Regions from separate parts of the Homo sapiens genome. Here region 1 is linked to region 2. A link means that fine-mapping ties the variant in region 2 to the expression of a gene that starts in the linked region. Tissue or cell type: whole blood. Region 2 holds a variant in brackets; the other region holds the start of a gene. All regions are shown on one strand. Distances are between the middles of the regions.

Region 1 (2,684 bases), 85 kb after region 2:
TATTACACTCTTTATTCTCCAAAGTCAAAGTCATTAAGTAAAATCATTCTCTCCCGTGAAATTTAACCACTTAACTGGGTGGATACAACCTCAGTGGTATGACCCAGATGCTGTTTTCAAATTTGCAGCATGAGTATATTTTCCAGGCGGGTTTCTAAAAATTTGAGAGTCATTGCTTAAGAGGCTTAGCGTTCCTGTCCTCTGACAGAGGTTGTACTGGGCAGACCCATCTCAGGGCCTGCCAGCTCACACACGTGCTGGAGGGGGGCCTACCTAACCAGGTGTGTTCCAAGGGTAGGCTCTGCTCTTATGACATCCAATCCACAGTCTGGCCAGTCACCTAAGTGAGGCTTGAGGTAAAGAGATGAGTTGATCCAACCAGATTCTTTCTCATGGGAATATGGCTCAAACTCAGAGAGAGACAGGTAGTTAGTAAAAACAAAACAAAACAAAAAACAAATCTAAAAAAAAATGCAGAGAGAGAATCCATAAGAAAATGATGGGTCAGAACCAGCAACACTGTGAAAGCAGAGGCTCTGAATTAGAAAAAACATACAAAGAGTAACAATAAAAGACTCATAGGCAAATAGGGGAGTGGGGAGGCGTGAGAAAAAGTGAATGTGTTATATTAAAGATGTGAGTTTAGGCCCTCAATATCCTGCTGTCAAGGTCCAGTAAGCGGGATCTCTGTCTGGTGAGCCAGGAGAAACTGAGGTTTCAGCTCCAAAGCTTGTGAGACCCTTTTTCCTTTTCCGCTACGCATTTCCACCATACCCTAAATAGAATGGATTCTTGCAACCAAAAGAACTCATTACGACACCTAGGAAATTTTAGGGAGGTGCTAGAGTGTGCCTTCAGCTTTGTCGCAGTGTACTACTCACTGGCCACTTCCACTCTCAACTCTTCCAGTGCTCAAGGGAAGTTTTACATATGCAACACACTGGCCTTAACTTCACAAATGACTGATTTCCATCCCTTTTTTCTCTTCTGCAGAAACATAACACTAATCATGCTCCTAGAATAACTACCAAGATAGCCTTTAGGGGGAAAACGTCACAAGACATGAACGTCTCCCCTGGTAGAAAGAAAGGCTCCTCCCCGAGGTCTCAGAGGCCACACCTGTAGGCAGGAGCACGCTTTTCGATGGCGGAGCCCGGTCCTTGCCTCGCAGCCGCCGGCAAACCACGGTGGCTCCCAGTCCCCGGGGATATTCCGCGTCAGCCCGCACCCCCGGTCCCCGGCCCCTGGCCCCCCGCCCCCGGCCCCCGGTGCCCGCTGGGTCACCTGTAATTGTAGGCGCTGAAACGCTTGCTCTCTCTCAGCATCGCCCGGTACAGAGATAACACTTGTGCGCGACTGGAGGCTGCCATTTTGGAAAGAAAAAAAAATAAACGGGTCCTCTTCGCCGAGGTCCCAAGTACGACCCAACCCACGAAACTCCAGCCTGTGCGGAAACCACGAACGAAATAAAATGCTGCGGCTCGGCTTTGCCAGCGGGCCGGGCCTAAGCCTAAGCGGGCAGCCCTGCGGATCGCGGACGGCGCCAGGCGTCCCGCGCCGCTTCGGGGGCGGGCGCAGGCAGGGCTCGGGGCAGCTAAGGGGGCGGTGCTGGGAGGGAGATGCCTCCGCCCCGCCCCGATCCCGCCCCCGCCCGGAGGCTCGGGACCCAGCAGCCGCTCCACGCGGCGGGAGGGCGGGGAAATAAGAGGACTGGCCGCCCGTGCATCCAGCCAAGCTCCTGGCGGACGGATATCGGAGGCCCAGGCATTCGAGGGACGTGCAGTTGCATCACGGAGAGCCTTTGGGAACCGTCTGGGGTCTTGGCGGAGACATTTGTGTTTCGGGGGCAGCGCCCCTTCCTACATCCAGGAGGCCGCGTTGCCCGGGTTACCGAAGGCCGCCGCACCGACGCCCCGCCCCTGACCGCCGATGCCCCTCCCACGCCGGCTGCGGTCGCCCTCGGCGCTGCCTGAGAGAGTTTGCGGGATTTCAAGGGTGACTTGATTTCGCCTGATCCTGGTCGGCAGGGTGGGGTTTCTTGGCATTCCTCAGGCCGGGGGATGCGACGTCTGGGTGTGGAGGTGATGAGCTAGGGGTTCTGTGGCACTCCGGCTCTGCTCAGGGCGACCTGCGTAGGGGCCTCTGGGGCAGGCCCGCTTTCTGTCAAAATGGCAGCGCCCAGCGTGCGCGGGTATCTCTGAAGTTGGGGTTTAAGATTCTTGCCCGTGAGAGCGAACGAGCCTGCCGTACTTCTGATTTTGAAACACCTGGGTCTGGGCTTCCCGGGCGAGCGGTGGGTGAGTGCCGGCCTCATTGCAGCCTGGGGTACGACGTGGGCGGTTGGTGTTGTAGGGGGTTTACATTGGCCGTGGATTTTTTCCTCTTTCCGGATGTGTTTTTGCTTTTGAGTGAAGAGTTCCCGTGGTTTTGTAACCTAATAAATGCATAAAATGCAGCTTGGGTTGTAGACTTTGGAGAATAATTAGAGACCTTTAGGGCTTTAGGCTTTCTCCAAGAAGCGGAGCAAGTTTTCAACCATGGCTTTCTTCAGAAGACTGCAGCTTTTTTGAATCATCTTATTAAAGTGGTGGATAAAGTTGCTTGTTCTGATCTTTGAGCATGGCACTGGACGCAGGAAGCTTCAGCCAGTCCTAGTTACTGTGTTTGCAAAGCACTTTTCTTGT
Region 2 (2,684 bases):
AAAACACAACTAATTTTACCCCTACAGGGCATCAGCTGTGTTACTAAGGACAGTGTCACCTTTAAAGTCAATTCCTGTGGTTGAAATGAGGACTATATGCATCTGTCCTGCTTCCGGCTCCAACCAGAAGTGGTAATGAGGAGAGACAGACGGATGCACAATGATAGTCTTCACAAAAGCTCGAGTTTCAAAATGAAAGGGGAGAGTACTCAGCGCGTCGCATCCTGTTTGGTGTCACTAGGACCTTTCTTCTCAGAGGAAGGAGGCTATTTATAAACTTAATGGTTACTTCAAGGAGGGCAGGCAGAAAAATAAATCTTTAGCTTCAGATTTCTTAAATCTTCTCTTGGTCACTGTTTATTTTGTCTAATTTTCTATAACTTTTATTTAGTCTTTACACTTATAATTGGTAACTGGAAGGTCCCCAATACTAAATTAAGGTGTGTATATATAAACATATATTATCCCCCCTCTCTTTTGAACAGATGTTGTCATGCTTAGGACAAGTTTAAATTCTAACAAACGTCGAGAAAGGCTGAGAATATAAAAGATAAGCAAGGCTTAACGTCAAAATTGAAGCTCTCTTTCAGTTTTATACAGCTAATCATTAAAGTTCTGCTCCTCAGCCAATTCAGCTTAGACACATCACACACGTAATTAATGCACAAAATGCTGCCATTCATGTGCAGATGAAGGAAGGATGCGGTCTATTTATTGAGCGCCTAGATTCTCAGTTACAAGAATTCTTTGCAAATATGATTTAAAGTAAGTAGTATTTAAAGAAGCAATGGCATTCCAGACCCCAATGTGGAAATTTCTGGGGATAAACATAAATGTGCAATCTTAAATAATGCCTTGTTTTATGAGTTCTGGGTCTTTCAAAGAGGGGCTCAGAGCCAGTGCATAGACAAGAGCATAAACCCAGATCTCATGGTATGCTTTTAAAACATTATGAAGCAATATTTCAATATCTAATTTCACATTAAAATGGGAAATCTGGAAACACAAGGACTTCATTCCCACCTCCGTTTGGAACAGCTGTCCTTTAAAACGTAGAGGCCTTCTAGTCAGCCACAGCGCCCTCCACTGGCACTTCTACACATGCCAGCCTCATCCTTCACTTTCCTGCTCGACCTGTGGATTCAAGAGGGAATAGGACACAGGTGGAGTTCTAGGCCCTTATCCTTGAACTGGATTGAGGAAGGGATGGGAGAGGAGAATTAAAGAAGAAAATCAGGAAAAACCATTTCCTGAGGTTTCCAGGATAAAGGGCCAGTGGAATACTAAGGAGAGGGGGCCTGTGGTGGTTTTAAAACAGGGTCACACATTTTGTGACACCCCTGCCATTGAGAATCGGGGGTCTATGTTCCCACACTTTGAATCTGAGCCTGTGACTCCTTTGACCAAAAAAATATGGCAGAAATGAAACTACATATTTCCAAGGCTGTTTCACAAAAGGCCACACAGCTCTGCTCTGTCCTCCAGAACACTCTCCTCTGCAGTTCTGCCCACCAAG[T/C]AGGAAGTCGCACTGCTCTGAGGCTACCACGATGTGAGGAAGCCCCGGCCACACAGACATTCTGCTCTACAGCTGCTGCTGATCCTGGCCTAGGCACCAGACCTGTCTCCGGGTGATTCCAAACCCCAGCCATTTGAGTACACCCAGTGTTACAGTCTTCCCAGCTATGGCTGATAGCATGTGCACTATCAGCATTCCCGGCCCAGATAATCTGTGAGTTATAACAAAAATGGTGGTTGTATTACGCTATTAATTTTTTTTTTTTTTTGAGACAGAGTCTCGCTCTATTGCCCAGGCTGGAGTGCAGTGGCGTGATCTCAGCTCACTGTAACCTCTGCCTCCCGGGTTCAAACTATACTTCTGCCTCAGCCTCCCAAGTGGCTGGGACTACAAGCATGTGCCACCATGCCTGGCTAATTTTTGTATTTTTAGTAGAGATGGGGTTTCACCATATTAGCCAGGCTGGTCTTGAACTCCTGACCTCATGATCCACCCGCCTCAGCCTCCCAAAGTGCTGGGATTACAGGCATGAGCCACCGTGCCTGGCCTACGCTATTAAATTTTAAGGTGGTAGAAACAGATTGTTGGTATACTAAGGCCTACGGAATACTAAGAAATTATCTGAAATGGCTTCTTTGGTGCTACCAGTGATACTGTCTGTTAGCCTTTGCTGGGTTCTAAGCTTTACCTGAGATAATCAAATTGAGTACTCACCTGTCTGCTGTCCGTTCCTCCCCTCCTCAGGAACCAATGGGAAGGAGGTTTCCTGGGCAGTTTTCATAGACTGCACCCTGATGAGCAGTGTGGTTTAGAAATAAGTCTTGGCTGTTACTGAGGCCTGAAGCACTGAAGGAAGTGTGCTTATGTTATGATCTGACAGAGTTACCTTTGAAAATGAAGTTTCGGTCTTCATCTTGAACACAAGGATAATGACAGCTGATTATCTGTTTCTTTCACAGTGGTTAAAAGTTTTGGTGAATGTGTATCTCAGATTTCTAAAAGTGTGAGTATATAATTTCATCTACAATGGCATGAGGCAGAAGTATAAGTTCTGAAAGCTCCTGTACATTTCCCCAAGCTTCCCATCACATAATTACAAATGAGTAGTGTTGTCCACAGGAAGATACTTGTTTTAATACTCCAAATAACTTATTTCAGTAGCACACAT

Evidence for each region. PIP is the estimated chance that this variant, and not a neighbour inherited with it, causes the effect.
Region 1: LYRM4 starts here. The variant in region 2 is fine-mapped to the expression of LYRM4 in whole blood (INTERVAL, PIP 0.91).

The regions. Positions count from the first base shown.
Region 1 is chr6:5,259,364-5,262,047 of GRCh38, forward strand. It overlaps LYRM4 (LYR motif containing 4), which reads right to left and starts at 1,587. Exons shown (of 3, transcript NM_020408.6): 1 at 1,285-1,587. The coding sequence starts at 1,370. It overlaps FARS2 (phenylalanyl-tRNA synthetase 2, mitochondrial), which reads left to right and starts at 2,150. Exons shown (of 7, transcript NM_006567.5): 1 at 2,150-2,297. RefSeq lists an enhancer at 818-867 and silencers at 1,078-1,387, 1,448-1,667.
Region 2 is chr6:5,174,299-5,176,982 of GRCh38, forward strand. All of the region lies in intron 2 of LYRM4 (LYR motif containing 4), which reads right to left. All of the region lies in intron 3 of LYRM4-AS1 (LYRM4 antisense RNA 1), which reads left to right. Among named protein-coding and RNA genes, the nearest start is that of MIR3691, 27 kb to the left of the region's middle. The variant T/C (reference allele first, on the strand shown) is at 1,517.